2 separate regions of the Homo sapiens genome follow, and region 2 is linked to region 1. Evidence: fine-mapped expression QTL. Tissue or cell type: whole blood. Region 1 holds a variant in brackets; the other region holds the start of a gene. All regions are shown on one strand. Distances are from middle to middle.

The links. PIP is the estimated chance that this variant, and not a neighbour inherited with it, causes the effect.
Region 2: LINC00487 starts here. The variant in region 1 is fine-mapped to the expression of LINC00487 in whole blood (TOPMed, PIP above 0.99).

Annotation. Positions count from the first base shown.
Region 1 is chr2:6,826,793-6,834,898 of GRCh38, forward strand. NRIR (negative regulator of interferon response) reads right to left here. Exons shown (of 4, transcript NR_126359.1): 2 at 6,522-6,638; 3 at 3,176-3,314; 4 at 1,762-2,163. Among named protein-coding and RNA genes, the nearest start is that of NRIR, 9.6 kb to the right of the region's middle. The variant A/G (reference allele first, on the strand shown) is at 5,045.
Region 2 is chr2:6,765,259-6,773,364 of GRCh38, forward strand. LINC00487 (long intergenic non-protein coding RNA 487) reads right to left here and starts at 5,053. Exons shown (of 6, transcript NR_038369.1): 1 at 4,821-5,053. LOC105373404 (a long non-coding RNA gene) reads right to left here. Exons shown (of 4, transcript XR_922745.3): 4 at 7,565-8,106. RefSeq lists an enhancer at 7,909-8,106.

The DNA of each region.
Region 1 (8,106 bases):
CTTGAAGGTTTTGAGGGAACCAATGCATTATGGAACACATTATATACCAATACCATGCTTTCCCAAGTTATTAGAATAGTAACAGAATGGCATAAAACAGCATATCTTGTGTTATGATCCTGTTAAAAATTATAAGGCATTTAAGACTATAAGTGACTTCCACTCATCATGGCAAATTAAAGTCATGGCCCACTAGAAATGGGCTCTTGGTCCTCCTCATGTCTGACCTTCTTATTTTGCAAATAAAAAACTAAAGTCCAGAGATGAATAACTTGTCAGAGGTCACAAACTCAGTTAGAAGTGGTACCTACATCTGCTTGTAGCCAGAAGTTCCTTCATTCATTACTTTGCATGTATGCACATAGAAGAGGAAGAATTAATAATTTTTAAAATTAATAAAATGACCACAGTTCCACCCAAAGTTCACCTTATAAATGTATCTCCAAATTCCCTAACCCTAACCCTTATTTTTAATGCAAGCTCTCTTCAGGTAGAAATAGTCTAGAGACACTAGTGAGGACATTTGGAGGCATGAGGAAAACTCTTCAATCGTTAGTTATTACAACAGGACCTACTGAAAAAAAATTATGGCTTAAAATAATTACACATTTATTGATGGATATTTTCTTAATTACAGCTTCAGAATGGAGAACTTGAGTGTTTGGATTTTTTTTTCTTCAATTAAAACACAGAAAATAATGTTTTCAATCTCAAAGATGAGCATAAATGCATTAGGTTTGGAAAAGCTTACAGACCAGGTTCAGCCAAAAGTGAAATTTGATAGCTCCCTTGAATGCCTTCTTATTTGAGAGAAATGGGACACACCCTCAATTATGGCAAAATAAGCACAACCATTAATGTCATGCATGTTAATAAAAATTTTGGAGACTCCACAGAAAAGTTTATGATGTGTTTTCTAAACCACAGTATTTTGGCGATTGCTCAATAATTACAAGAGCCTGGGCCTTGCAGGACCCATTAGCTGTATCCAACATAAGCAGTGCATCCAGAGTTCTACAATGACGAGGGGGTAGGGAGGTTTTAAGAGCAAATAAACAAGGACACATAAAATCCCCAGAATGTCTCTTAAAGCCAAATTTCAAATCATTACCTCACATGGAAGAAAACATATGCATCCATATATATGTACCTAAAAAAATGTGTGTGTATGTACATATCATTTACTGCATCAGATATGCTGAGACCATACTGCATTATAAAGAGCACTAGAAAAAGAACTGCAGAACTTCTATTCTCGCGTGCATCTGCTACTAACAAATTACATGACCCTAGGCAGGGCAGGCCTCTCTGTGGGCCTCATTTTTCACCACTATTAAAGAAAGAGATTGCGTTCCATGATCACTAAGGTTTTCCTTTGAATATTTTTCTGACCCTGGGGGCTGTATTTAGAATTCTTGAAGCAAGAAATTAGCCACTTTTAAAGATTTGCTACTTTGACCTAGAAGTGTTCCCTGTTTTGTCCTTTGTTTTCCCATTAGAGAAGAGATTTAAATAAAAATGAAAGGAACTACTGTTGTTTTTCCAGACACAGTTTGTGTGTAATGAGGGAAGTGATTATCTCGGCAAAAGCACAGTTCCCTCATAAAGGTTCAAAATTAGCGCTTTTCCTCCCTCTAGTGGAAATGTAATGTATTTGATCTAAATTGAATTGGTTTCAGTATTTATCAAATTTTTAAAAAAAGAGAGAAAAAGAGTTGGCATATCTAAAACATAATCAGGGATTGAACCAAATGCAATTTGTTACAGGTTTTCCACACAAATGTCTTAAATATTTTACTTGTTTAAATAAATTCAAAATTAACAATGAAAAGCTGCAAAGTAGATTTAGATCAATTGAAGTTCTCCAAATGAAATAGACAAGTCCAGGCTGGGTGCGGTGGCTAACGCCTGAAATCCCAGCACTTTGGGAGGCCGAGGAGGGCGGATCACGAAGTCAAGAGATCAAAACCATCTTGGCCAACATAGTGATAATCCCATCTCTACTAAAAATACAAAAATTAGTCTGGCATGGTACCATGTGCCTGTAGTCCCAGCTACTCAAAAGGCTGAGGCAGGATAATCGCTTGAACCCGAGAGGCGGAGGTTGCAGTGAGCCAATATCGCACCACTGCACTCCAGCCTGGCGACAGAGCAAGATTCAGTCTAAAAAAAAAAAAGAAATACACAAGTCCACATTAGATGCTTGGTATTTAATTTATGCCCACATGCATCTGAAAATCAGTCCACGTATAAAAATTACTAGGTCAAAGCATGTCACTGAATAGGACAAGAAACACAGCACTAACAACATTAATAAGAAAGAAATGTTTACTCCATTGTAATTCGATCTAACATGTATGGTATCTGTTTTACATGAGGGTTTTCTGATTCCCTCTCTCTGAAACCTTTGTTAACTCCCTCAGGCAAAGTAAATCAGAATCAGACCAGGTTTGTCTGACCCACCTGTGCCAGGGTGGGCAGGACCACAGTGATGATCACCAGGTGTGTATGTCTGCCTCTCTATTGAGGGAGACTCTTCTTCTAATTATTTTTCTCTCCTTACAGTTGTAGAGCAACAGAGAGACATGGCGAATTGGAGAAATTGTGACTCCAAAGGTATTCCCATTCCATTGTCTAATAATCTGAACAGTTGTTTGTTTGTTGTAAGTAAAATCAAATAGCACCATGCTGGCTGAATTCAGTCTGCAAGCCACACCAAGGACAGCCTTGCTTAGCCCTGGAAGGCAGAGATTTTCCATGGAAGAGTTGTAACAAGATGTGTGCTTTAAAGCATGAAAAGAGTGAAAATGCAAAACCACACCTAAAAGGTTCTTAAAAATATCAAACATTCGACTGGGCACAGTGGCTCACACCCGTAATCCCAGCACTTTGGGAGGCCGAGGTGGGTGGATCACAAGGTCGGGAGTTTGAGACCAGCCTGACCAACATGGTGAAACCCCATCTCTACTGAAAATACACAAAAAATTAGCCAGGCATGGTGGCGTATGCCTGTAATCTCAGCTACTCGGGAGGCTGAGGCAGGAGAATGGCTTGAACCCGGGAGGCAGAGGTGGTTGCAGTGAGCCGAGATCATGCTACTGCACTCCAGCCTGGATGACAGAGTGAGACTCTGTCTCAAAAAAAAAAAAAAAAAAAGAGTGATTAGGTTACATACACAGATTAAGGAGGTTAGAGGTGTCTGCTGCAATAATCCAGAGGAAGTCTTCACTGGATGAGACAGAATGCTGTACACAAAGTGTTTAGTCTTCCCATGCATCGTGAGCAGTTGCCAAGGCACCAGAAAACCATGTCACCTGGAAGATGCAAATAAAATAAATAAACAAAGCCCCACCTTAGAGAAGATTGAAAGTTTGCAGGAATCACTGTAAGTGAAGCAATAATTAATAGTGGCAGAAAAATACGTACAGATATTGCATCCAAGAAAAAAATATTTTCAAAGAACCTTAAATAATGAGAAAAGAAAGATGAAAAAAAGGAAGGAGGAAAAGAAGAAATGCAGGGAGAGAATGCAGAGGAGGAGTAAATGGAGGAGGGAAGAAAAGAAAGAGTAAAGAAGGGAGGAAGGAAGAGAGGAAAAAAGAAAAGGAAGACAGAAAGGAAAGAAGAAAAGGGGGGAAAGGAGGGGCTTTGGAATTTAGAAACTTGATAGCAGAAATGAAAATCTTAGTAGAAGATTTAAACACAAAGTTAAAGAAATCTTACAAAATAAAGATATAAAAAGTCACATATGAGGGAAAGATAGGGTGGTTTTGCTTGTTTAAAATACTACACTAGGGACTTTTGTGTCTTGACAAGATGGAGTAATAGAAAGCTTTATCCCCCAACATGAAGAAACCAAATAATCAGACAAGGTTATGAAACAATAGTAACAACTGAAAATGTCCCTGTGACCAGAGAGAAATGAGGTGAGCCCTACAAGTGCCTGAGCACACTGACTTCTGGGAGTTTGCAGACTGAAAGATTAAACAGGAAGAATCCAACAGTCTCCCTGAGTAGAGGGATAGAGCTGGGAGTCCCAGGAGACCAAGGCAGTTGGAGCTAGAGATGCACAGAGAGAATGTTTGAGTTCTATAGAGAGTCTTCCTTGATCATTGAACCGTGAGAGTGAGAAATGCTACCTAAGGCCAGGTGAAGAAAATTCCAAAAAGATTAGAGGAACTAGAACCCAGGGTCAGGGTCAGACACTGCCTGGTGTCTGTTCTTACTAGCCAGACTATACAACTTTATAGTCCATTAGGTTGATCCATTGCAATTGAGCACTACAAAAGATTAGTGAACTTGAACACACAGCAATAGAAACTACCCAGAAAAAAACACAGGGCAAAAAAGACTGCAAAAAAATAAATAAAAGACCATCGGTGAGTTGTGGGGCAGCTTCAGTCAACTAATACATATGTAATTAGAATCCCCAGGGAGAAAAGAGAGAAGTGACAGAAAAACTATTTGAGCTTTTTTCTTTTTCAAAATTTAATGTAAACTATAAATCCACAGATCAAACACAGATTCAAGCACATGAATAACTGTACACCAAAGCACATCATAATCAAATGATTCAAACCAGAGGAAAAGAAAAAAAGCAGCCCAGAAATGATACAGGTTACATAGAGAGTAACAACCAGAAGGGGACAGCAGATTTCCCATCAGAGATAATGCAAGTGGGAAGACATTGGAGCAACATTGTTAAAGTACTAAAAGAAATAAACAAACAAACTCTGCAACCTAGAATGCTACACGAAGGGAAAATCTCTCTCAAAAACTAAGGTAAAATATAGACTTTTCTACATATACAAGAGCTGAAAGAATTCATCACCCACCAGCAGACTCACCGTAAGAAATGTTAAAGAAAGTCATTCAGAAGAAGAAAAAATATTAGACGGAAATAGAGATTTACACAAAAACATGAAAAACAACAGAAAGTGTTGCACACGGTGCCCAGAGCAGTTTATTTGCAACAGGTAAAATCTGGGACCAACCCAGGTTAAGGACAACATGTCCAGAAGATGAAATACTACTCAACAAAATT[A/G]AAAAAGAAATATAGAGGATGGAATAAATCATTGATCCACAAACCAACATGTATGAATCTCAAAATAATTTTGCTGCTAATTGAAGAAAGTCTAATAAAAATGGCACAAACTGTATGATTCCATTTATCTAAAATTCTAGAAAATAAAAACTAATTTTCTGTACAGTTAGACCTGTGTTTTCCTGGGAATAAAAAGGTCAGGGAGGAGGGCAGAAGGGTGGGATTGCAAAAAGACCCAAGGACATTTCTAGAGGTAATATTACAGTTTGCTGTCTCTACTGTGGTGATGGTTTCATGAGATTATACATATGTCAAAATTAATTAACTTGTACATTTTAAATGTGTGTACTTTTCTGCAAGCTATTCATACCTCGATAAAGCTGCTAAAGATGGCATTTCTAATTTTCCATGCTGTTGTAGAAAATAGGGAAAATTTTTAAGATGTTAAAAAAGTCACAGATTATCACTGAGAAAAAATGTATTTTTGATAATTTACATCTTCTTAGGTGCTCAGCATTCTGCTTAGCATTATATTAAAAGGATTTATCTCAATGTATTTAACCAGTGTGTATTACAAATAAACACATTATACACATACATAAATATATTCTGATTATTTAAAGATAATAGTTATAATAAAACCTTTTTATGTGTACCACTGATTATTTTCTTGGTGTATGTTCCAAAATGATCCACGTGTCCAAACACTTTTAAGATACTATATAATTGCTCCTAGAAAAGAGATTTTACAGAGAGAAGGATCAGCACAAAAGGAGATTAGTCTAGTCTAAGAAAAAAATAAACAAAACCAGGCATGTACCACTGAGGAAGGAAGACAATGGAGAAGTGCTATGTCTGCTTCACAGCTGTTTCCCTGAGTGGGTAGACTGTTTGAGATAGAACACCAGGCACTTTCATTCCCAGGCCTATTCTATTAATACTTTTGCATACGTGAAGACTGACTGAGCCTCCTACTTACTAATAGAAGTGCTTGCTGTGCTTAGGGAAAATTTATTTTAACTTAAAGGACATTGCAGTAATCTGCTCAGGCTGCCATAAGAAAATACCACAGGCTAGTGGCTTAAACAGAAATTTCTCACGAGGTGGGCATGGTGGCTCACAACTGCCATCCCAGCAACTCAGGATCCTGAGGTGGGAGGATTGCTTAAGCCCAGGAGTTTGAGGCTGCAGTGAGCTATTTCAGCCTGGGAAATAGAGAACCATCCCAATAAGAAGAAAGAAAAGAAAAAGAGAGAGAAAGAAAGAGAGGGAGGGAGAAAGAAACAGAAAGAAAGAGAAAGGAAGAAAGAGAAAAGAAGGAAAGGAAAGGGGAAAGGAAAACAGAAAGGGAAGGGAAAGGGAAAGGGAAAGAGAAAGAGAAAGAGAAAGAGAAAGAGAAAGAGAAAGAGAAAGAGAGAAAGGGAAAGAGAAAGAGAAAGAGAAAGAGAAAGAGAAAGAGAAAGAATTTATTTCTCACATTTCTGGATGCTAGGAAGTCCAAGATCAAGGTGCCAGCCAGGTAGGATTCATTTTAAGCCCTCTTTTCTTGGCTCATGGGAGGCCACCATCTCACAATGTGCCCATATAACCTCTTCTTTATGCAGACGCAAGGAGGCAAGGGCAGGGAGGGGAAGAGAGAGAGTGCACGCATGGAAGGGAGAGAACACTTTTGTGTCTGTTCTTATAAAGACACAAATCCTATTGGATCAGGACCCAACCCTTGTGACCTCAGTAATCTTAATTACTTCCTTAGAGGTCCATCTCCAAATGCAGCCACTCTAGGGGATAGGAATTCAACATAAGAATTTGGAGGTGGGGGGACACAAACATTCAGTCCATAACAAACATTCAACTGTTTGAGTAATTCAGAGTGGGGCTCAAAATGTAAAACATTTTGATGAATCACGTTAATTGTCATGTTGATAATGTGCCACATCATACATTTTAATGTAGCATTATTTGTGATTAATTCTCTTACCTTTGTTTTTTTTTTAAATGTCAGTACTTCACCTTATTTCGCACATTTTTACTGTACATAGAATTCTATGTTGGTATATTTTTCTTTCAGTACTTTAAAGATCTTGTTGCACTCTCTTGCCCATAGTTTCTAATATAAAGTCAGCAATAACTTACATCTTTGTTTTCATATAAATATTTATAATGTATTTTTTCTTCAGCTGCTTTCAAGATTTTATCTTTGGTTTAAGTGTTTAGATGAGTGCATTAATTTTCTAGTTATGCTGTGACAGAATACTCAAAACTGGGCCGCTTTAAACAACAGAGATTTATTTTTTCACAGTTCCAAAAACTAGAAGTCCAAAATCAAGGTGTCTTCCCTCTGAGACTCTGAATAGAATCCTTCCTTACCTCTTCCATCTTTTGGTAGTGATGATCATATTTTGGTGTTCCTGGCTTTCAGCTGCATCAGTCCAATCTCTACCTCTATCATCACATGACATTGTGTCTCATGTCTCTGTCTCATCTTCCCTTCTTATTATGAAGACACTAGTCATAATGGATTAAGGTTCACTCTAATCCAATATGATGTCATCTTAACTTGATTACATCTGCAGCAACCATATTTCCAAATAATGTCACATTCTGAAGTTCCAGAAAGGACATCAGTTTTAGAAGGTCACTGTCCAATACAACTATGATATGCCTAGGCATTGTTTTCTTTGGATTTACAATGATGGGGGTTCACTGAGATGTTTTGAATCTGTAAATTTATGTTTCACTATATTGGAGAAACATTTTGTGAAAACATTTACCCATAAAAGGGGAAATATGGTTCCTTCACATTTAAAAAACATTTCATTCTCATTCTCTTTTCATTCTAGAATTCCAATTAGACGTATGTTAGATCTTTTCATATTGTATCACAAATCTCCAATGCTTTGTTTATATTTTGGAGCAGATAATTTCCACTAATCTATCCTCAAGTATATGGACTCTTCCCTTTGTCAATTCTATTACACCGCTAAAGCCATCCAGTGATGGCTTTTAATTTCAGCTGTTGTAATTTTCAGTTCTATAATTTCCATTTGATACCTTTTTAGAGT
Region 2 (8,106 bases), 62 kb before region 1:
CCTTGAACACATGTTAAAAATTTACTCCCTGAAATGAGTGTGCTCAAATACAACTTGGTAATATAGGCTAACGTGCTTTCCAAGTTTATTCACATGCAAGTTTATTCACTATATTTTGAAACTATTTATTTTCTTTTAAAGGAAATCACTGCCTGAAAGATATCTCTGGAGTCAGGAGCCTCTGCTTTCTGCATTGAGAAGTCCAGGCTGCATATCGGCAAGAAGAATCAACCAAGCCAACAGGCACACCTGGCGGCGTCACCCTCCAACGTAGATGTTTCGACACCAAGCACTTCAACAGCCCCAGTAGCTTCCTCCTCAGCTTACTGATACTTGAAGATTTTTGTTTAGGGTTCATTTCTAGACCAGGTAAAATGACAAATTCAGTTCCACCAATGGTGTCTGGCTGTGCCTACCACAAAGCCTCTCACTTCAGAAAGGCCTCCGCCCAGGCTTGGATCCCAACTCTCTTCCAGGGTCTGGGGCAGTGGAGCAGCCCCCACCAGCTCTGTTAAAAGCCTTCGGGCAAATGGAGCTGCCCTTTCCTTTCCTGTTTAGTATCAAGGTCACCGAATGGGAGCATCCGGCAGACCTAGGCAGCCTCAGACTTTCTGAGACTCGATTACAAAGCCTACTTTTTATGGGAGTCGGTTTCAAACATCTGTTAAGATTGGGCAGGATAAGAGAAAACCCATCTTTATGAAATTTTTTTTTTTGAGATGGAGTCTCTCTCTGTCACCCAGGCTGGAGTGCAGTGGTGCGATCTCGGCTCACTGCAACCTCCACCTCCCAGGTTTTAGCGATTCTCCTGCCTCAGCCTCCCGAGTAGTTGGGATTACAGGCACGTGCCACCATGCTCAGCTAATTTTTTGTATGTTTAGTAGAGATGGGGTTTCACCGTGTTAGCCAGGATGGTCTCAATCTGCTGACCTCGTGATCCACCCACCTCGGCCTCCCAAAGTGCTGGGATTACAGGCATGAGCCACCACGCCTGGCCCAAAATCATTTATTAAATTTTTTTTAAGGTAAACATGTCATAAATGAGGCAAACATTTAAAAATGTGTAAAATGCATTCATTGTAGAAGACGGACCTGTCTCTCTCAATTGAAATTAAGCAAACAGTGATCTTCGCTGGCTACCGAATTGTTTGGAAATCCTTCATGATGTTATCCCTCATATCTAATGCCCTTATTCTTTAGATAATTAAAACATTGCAGTAGGAAGAGGATCAAGATGCAGTGATGCAAACACAACTTTGCAACGGGAATTCAGAAGACTGGATTTTTGTCTGATCTGGGGACAACGGGTGGTCCCAGGAGAAACCCTGACCTTTCTTTGTCTCAATTTACATTTCTGAAAGATTAGGGAATTTTGAACATTTTAAATGTTTATATCTTATATAACACTAACTGATCATTGCTTTCATTTAGACAAAACCAAAATGGCAGCCAGGTTATTGCCAGTGACACATTTGAAGTTGTAGGACCTTAAGGTTCCAGAGTTCCTGCCTCTTTTCGCTAACCTCATCTCATTTCACTTTCAACTGCAGGCTTGTGAAAATTAAGCAAAACCAAACCAAAACACAAGCTCTATGTGCTATGGATAGAAACTGCTGGAAGAGTTATAAATTTTTTTTTCTTTTTATATTATACTTTAAGTTCTGGGATACATGTGCAGAACATGCAGGTTTGTTACATGAGTATACACGTGTCATGGTGGTTTGCTGCACCCGTCAACCCCTCATCTACATTAGTTATTTCTCCTAATGCTATTCCTCCCCTAGCCCCGCCACCCGCCAACAGGCCCCAGTGTGTGATATTCCCTCCCTGTGTCCACGTGTTCTCATTGTTCAACTGCCACTTATGAGTGAGACTATGCGGTGTTTGAAGAGGTATAAAATGTAAAGACAGCTCTACGGTGTGGCCCAGAAGCTGTGCTTCTCACAGGTTCCCAGGCGGTGCTGGGGACGCTGGCCCAGGGTCTCCACTCGGAATCACTGCCATCAGGTGTCTCATTCTAACGCTAATTCAAAATTATTAAGGGCCACTGTGGGCCTTCTAACATATTCCCTTTTTTGAAAGAGTTCTCTGAAACTGAAACCTAACTAAGACTCTGAACTAAAGTTAGGAACTCATTTTTACTGATTAAAAAAAAAAAAAAAAAAGAAAGAAAAAAAAACTATAGCCCTCGCTAATATTGCTTCTAAATAGCAGGGCAGACAGGCAGTCTGGGCGCACCCAGTCATGATGGTGTCACTCGCCCTTCCCCAAATCCCCATCAGGATGAATCAAGGCAACATGACCCTCTGGGAACATTCCCCAGGCCCTTCCCCCAGTATGGCTTCTGGGAGCAACTGTGGGGCCAGGGGGTTTCCCAAAAGCCAGCTTTCCCATGACAAAAGTGCACAGAACATGCCCCACCCTTCAGTTCCTACGTCCTTGGAAGCACCAAGCAAGTCATACAAAGTCGTGGAATCACAGAGGATGGATTCACATAGGACGTTTCTAGTAAAACAGTGCAAGCTTCTCCTTGGCCAAAACCAGAGGGCTTCCTTCTGATGCCCCAAGTGGTGCTTGGGTCCCTGGCCAGGGAAACAGTTCACTCTCCCAGTACCTGCCCTTGTGCATTTGTCATAGGATTAGAAATGAGTAGCCAGCATGCTCATGGCCGTGTATTACAGCATAAATATTCAGAAACTTGCTTTAGACATCACTTACAGATTCTTTCCTGAAACTTCACATAGAACGTACAGAAACACAAGTATTGTGTGAAGCAGTTGTGGGGCCAGGGAGGTGCCCGGGCTTTGAGGGCACGTAGCCTTTGCCATGCAATAGCTTCTGGAATTACACGCATGGCCTGCTCCCCAGCTTCCCCACCAGCAGGGACTGGGGCGTGGACCGGGGATGGAGACTGGGGGTGGGGGTCCACCTGTGGACCTCCGATAGGAGGGAGCTGCTTGGCCCTTCTCTGGCCCATCTCTGGCAGGCAGTTGCTGGACAAACTGCAGAGGTCTCCACCTGCAGCATCCAAGGCACACAGGCTCTTCATAAAAATCCCTTTCTCCTGTCCCCTTCCAATTGGTGGCAGCTGCCACTCAGCATCTTTGGTTTTAAACAGTGAAATGGCTTCCCAGATGTCAGGGGGGAAAATCAGTGCAAGGCCTAGACTCGGAATTCCAAGTCGCCCCATCCAGATAGCTGCACCGAGAAGAGAGAAGACACAGGACCGTTTTGTCGTTTTCATTTCCGTTTTCTTTTACTAGGAAATTGAAATCGGGTTTCTGGTCTCCGCACTACGGGCTCAGAGGGTTCTTTGGTGTTGGGGAGGCATCGAGCCTTTGGTGCTGCACACACCCTAAACCCTGGCTCCACCCGTAGATGCCAAGAGCCCCCTCCAGCTGCGATCGCCAAAAATGTTTCCAGACTTTCCACCTACCTCCAGGGGCAAAATCACCTAGGATGAGAACCACATAATTCAGGGGCGTCCAGTCTTTTGGCTTCCCTGGGCCACATTGGAAGAAGAATTATTGTCTTGGGCCACACATAAAATACACCACACTAGCAATAGCTGATGAGCTAAAGAAAATCATAGCTGAGAAATCTCAATGTTTTTAAAAGGTTTACAAATTTGGGTTGGGCTGCATTCAAAGCCACCCCAGGCCACATGGGCTGCAGGTTGGACAAGTTTGAAATAAGTTATGCTATGGCAAACAATAAGCTGATATTATACAAATATTTTACTTACAAAAAAATAACTACCATAAAAAGATGTACGTGGAGGCGTGTGTGTGTGTGTGTTGGGTTGTGTGGGAAGGGGTGTGAGCATATGTGTGTGTTGAATGTGGGTGTGTGTGTGTTGGGTTGTGTGGGAAAGGGTGTGAGCAAGTGTGTGTGTTGAATGTGGGTGTGTGTGTGTTGGGTTGTGTGGGAAGGGGTGTGAGCATGCGTGTGTGTTGAATGTGGGGGTGTGTGTGTTGGATTGTGTGGGAAGGGGTGTGAGCAAGTGTGTGTGTTGAATGTGGGTATGTGTGTGTTGTGTGGGATATAAGTCTGTGTAATGTGTGTTACATATGATGCATGTGTTTATGTGTGTAGTGTGGGTGTTGGTGTGTGTGTATGTATGTATCTGTGTGTTTACATCTGTGGTGTATGTGTATGCATGTTTGTGTAGTGTGTGTTAGTGTCTGTGTATGTGTGTGGTATCTGTGTATTTTTGTGTGTAGTGTATGTGTGTGCATGTTTGTGTAGTGTGTGTTAGTGTCTGTGTATGTGTGTGGTATTGTGTGTTTATGTGTGTGGTGTATGTGTGTGCATGTTTGTGTGTGGCATGTGTTGGTGTGTGGCATTTGTGTGTTTATATGTGTGTTGTGTGTATGCATGTCTGTGTGTATATGTGTGGTGTCTGTGTGTTTCTGTGTGTGGAATATGTGTATGCATGTTTGTGTGTTGCATGGTGTGTGTATGTATGTGTGTGATATCTCTGTGTTTGTGTGTGTGGTGTCTGTGTATTCATTTTGTGTGTGTGGTGTGCACGTGTGTGGCATGCGTGTGTTTAAGTGTGTGATATATACATACACACGTGTGTGTTTATGTGTGTGGTGTATGTGTATTCATTCTGTGTGTGTGGTGTGCATGTGTGTGGCATATGTGTGTGTACGTGTGTGGTATATACATACACACATTTATGGATGGGGGTGTGTGTGTGTTGTGTGGGATATAAGTCTGATGAGGTAAAGAAGCTCCAGGAGATTCTCTTTGGTTGAATCTCATGCCATGAGACTTGGCTTCTGGCCACGATGGAGTGAGAAGCCTGGACTGACCTTTCTGCCTGGAGCAAGGGAACACCGTGTAGAACCGGCACGGCGCATCTTCCAGACGGCAGTGCCCAGGCTGCTTGGCAGGCACCCCTGCAGGAGGGGTCAGGGAGGTGGGCACCCAGCGGTCCCTCAGCACCCGTCCCGTGTGGCACAGTCCAGCCGCCTCCCAGGGCCGAGGAGGGGAGACGCAGGCTCCTGGGCTGCTCCCACCCAGGCCCCTGGAACAGCGCATCTTCTGTGACCGTGGTGAAGGAAAATCTCAGCCTCTGCTTCCCACCTCCTCAGCCCCTGCCTCAACAGGAAGCCCACAGCGCAAGAGACGCCATTCTAGGGCCAGGAAGGAAGAGCCTCAGACCCTGGAATTGCCATGTACAAACTAGACGTGTATTTATGGTGTGTCTGAATGTACAACAATTTCCTGTTTCGGAGAAAATAGTTCCTTCCTGGAAGGGCTGTTCTGTATTTGCACACTTTTCCCATGTGATTTTGGGGAAAAGTACCTGACTTTCTGTGAATAGACGCACTTTTTCTTACCGAAAATAATGATAGTTTCAATCTGGCTATAATCGTTCATATTCATGATTTTTTTCGGATGTAGAAATCAGCAGTTTTGCATTGTAAGACCTCACCCATCCACCACTCACCGTCCCCACACCCCTGGGAACAGGAGGAACCTCACAGAAGAAGAAGGTGGATTTTACTACCTACTTGCCACACCTCAATCTCTCTGTCTGTAAGCAGAGAGAATACGGTAATAATAATATTAATAATGATAATAATAATACCTTTCTCACAAGTTCGCAGGGAGGGATGAGTTCATGCACATAAAATGCTCAGCCCAGCACAGCTGAGCACACGATTCTCAGCACTATTACTTGCATTCTTGTCACTGAAAGGAAGAGGGAACGGAGTGTGACAGCGCAGGTTAGACCCCCGGCGCAGCCATCCACCTGCCACTTTGTCACAGGGACTCCACGACTAACTGCCGCCCTATTTTCCCATAAGCAGGCAATGGTGATGATAAAATCATTCTCAAAGCTTAGGGAGGCCAGGACCCAACCCAGGGCCGATCAACGCAAAGCCCTTGCTGCTTCCTATCCCATAAAACCCAATTATTTATGAATGTGAACCTAAAGCCGCATCCTAATTTAGAAGGCATGGAGATAACATGGCCAAGCAGCCGCCTCTCCAGGCAGCGAGATGACTAGGTAGGTCCCAGAGCCCTGAGCATGTCCCCTAGAAAACAACTCAAGACAAGTGCATTTGCATGCCTTCTTCTGTCTCTCTGAAATCACTCAGTTATAGTCACTCAGTGTGTGCTCACAAACACTGAGTCTCCCCTACACGTGATGCATTTCAGTACCAGGGCAATTCGAGTGAGAAACATGGCCATAGCCCCCAGCCTCTTGGACTATCAGAACTCTTAGGAAGTACAAGGATTGAAATATGTGGTCTAACAGCAGAGCGGTATTTTTCTCATTGTACCACCTTGTTGTAAAAAATTGCTGGAGCCTGAAGGAAACCACCTATGGGAAGGGTGTGAGTCAATGGTTCCCCACTTCTGCAGAGTTCCTTCTGAGCAGCTCAGAGCCCACCCCGTGTGGACACATCTCTTACCAAGATGACCTTCCCCTAGCGGGAAACGGAGGAATGAGCAGGCGGCACTCACAGTGCCAATTACAGCAAGGGGATTTGCATAGGAGACCTAACTGCCTGTTTCAATTAGGAGCAGCAACTCCCTCCTTCTTCCTTCCCAAGGAGCCAGGAACACCAGGCATGTGGGTTTGGATTTGTCTGGGAGGAGGCATGACTGTGCGCACCAGAGTGAAAGCCTCCCCACTCACACTGCTCACCTGGAGAGAGGCTCAGGGATCCTGGCAGGCGCAATGTTTGAGAAATGCCCAGGCGAAGAAGATGAATGCTTCCTTTCACCGGGCCCTCCCTGGCTTTAACTCTTCTTAGTCCTGTCTCTGGGAGACCCTGGCAGCCCCTCGCAGCTGTGACCTCTCTAAACTGTCAGCCTCAGATTAACTGATACTTCATCAATTTTGCCTGAACTGCATTTGCAACCCGGTCTCAAGAGGACAGCCAAGTGCATCAACGCTGGGCATTAACCCCCCAGAACCAGATTGCCTTCAAAACGAGGGGGACTTTTCCAATATTCTCACAGCGGCCCGGGCAACAAGCCTAGGGGGACTTTGGCCAGAGGGGAGAGAAGGGGCCTCTGATTATTCCTTGTAAATTTTTCATGAGGACATCTGCCCATACTCTGCGCCTCCTCCAGAGCTGCCCTCTCTCTCTCTCTCCCTTCCTCTGTCTCTGTGTTCAGGCCTCTGACAAGGCATGAAAAACGAGAATGATTGGGCCTCAGTCCCCATTAGCCAGGAAGTGACTGATGGGAGGATGGGCGTGTGTGGTGACTTCAGGCTTGGGAGGGGCCGGGGCTGCCGGGTTTTGAAACAAAAGACCAGTCAGGAATGGATGAGTCCTAGGTGGATCTGCAGATGGAGGCTGTGCTGTGAGTAGGTGGCTAAGGTGCACAGATGGTCATGGCTGATAGGCCAGCCTGGCCCGGGCTCCTGGTTCTGCAGACCCCAGCTCTGGGCTGGAAAATCGGTCCCCGCCTCCCCCATCTTCCCCAAGATTGTCCCCGTCCTTCCTCGGGCAGACCTTCACCGTGGAGCAGAAAGCTGCCTACAATATCGCCCAAATCAAAGCCAAGAAGAATTAGAGTGTAGGGACAGGGGAACAGGGAAGTGCTTTTTTAATTTAAATAATAAAAAATAAAAAATAGTCATTCTTTTGGAAATACTAGCAGCTTACAAGCTTTAAAATCCTCTTTCCCAACAGTTTAAATCAAAAGCCAGCAGCCCTTTCTCATGGATGCATCAAATCATGCAGATGTCCTTTTTGTGCCCCCTTTAAGGTGACATGTGCTTCAATTTATTTTTAATCTTCTAAGTGATGTCATCAGGACGCCGCCCGGGTGACACGGGAGGTGGCTGCTCCTGGGGCTGTGGGTCTGGGCAGTGCAAGCTCCACGCGCACTGACCCCATGGGCTCAACCCAGAGTCCACAGTCAGAAACCGGCCCCGGGCGGCAGGAGACGCTGCAGAGGGAGATTCCATAGAAGAGGTAAATTCATTAAGAAACTCATCACCGAGCACACCTTAGAAATCCCACCTTTTGTGCTCAACGTGGCCGGGTCCCCGGGGACGCCGTTGGCAGCTCTCCATGGAGCAACAGTGCCACCCAGTGGTCAGTCCTCGCGATGCCGCCGCCCGCTCCC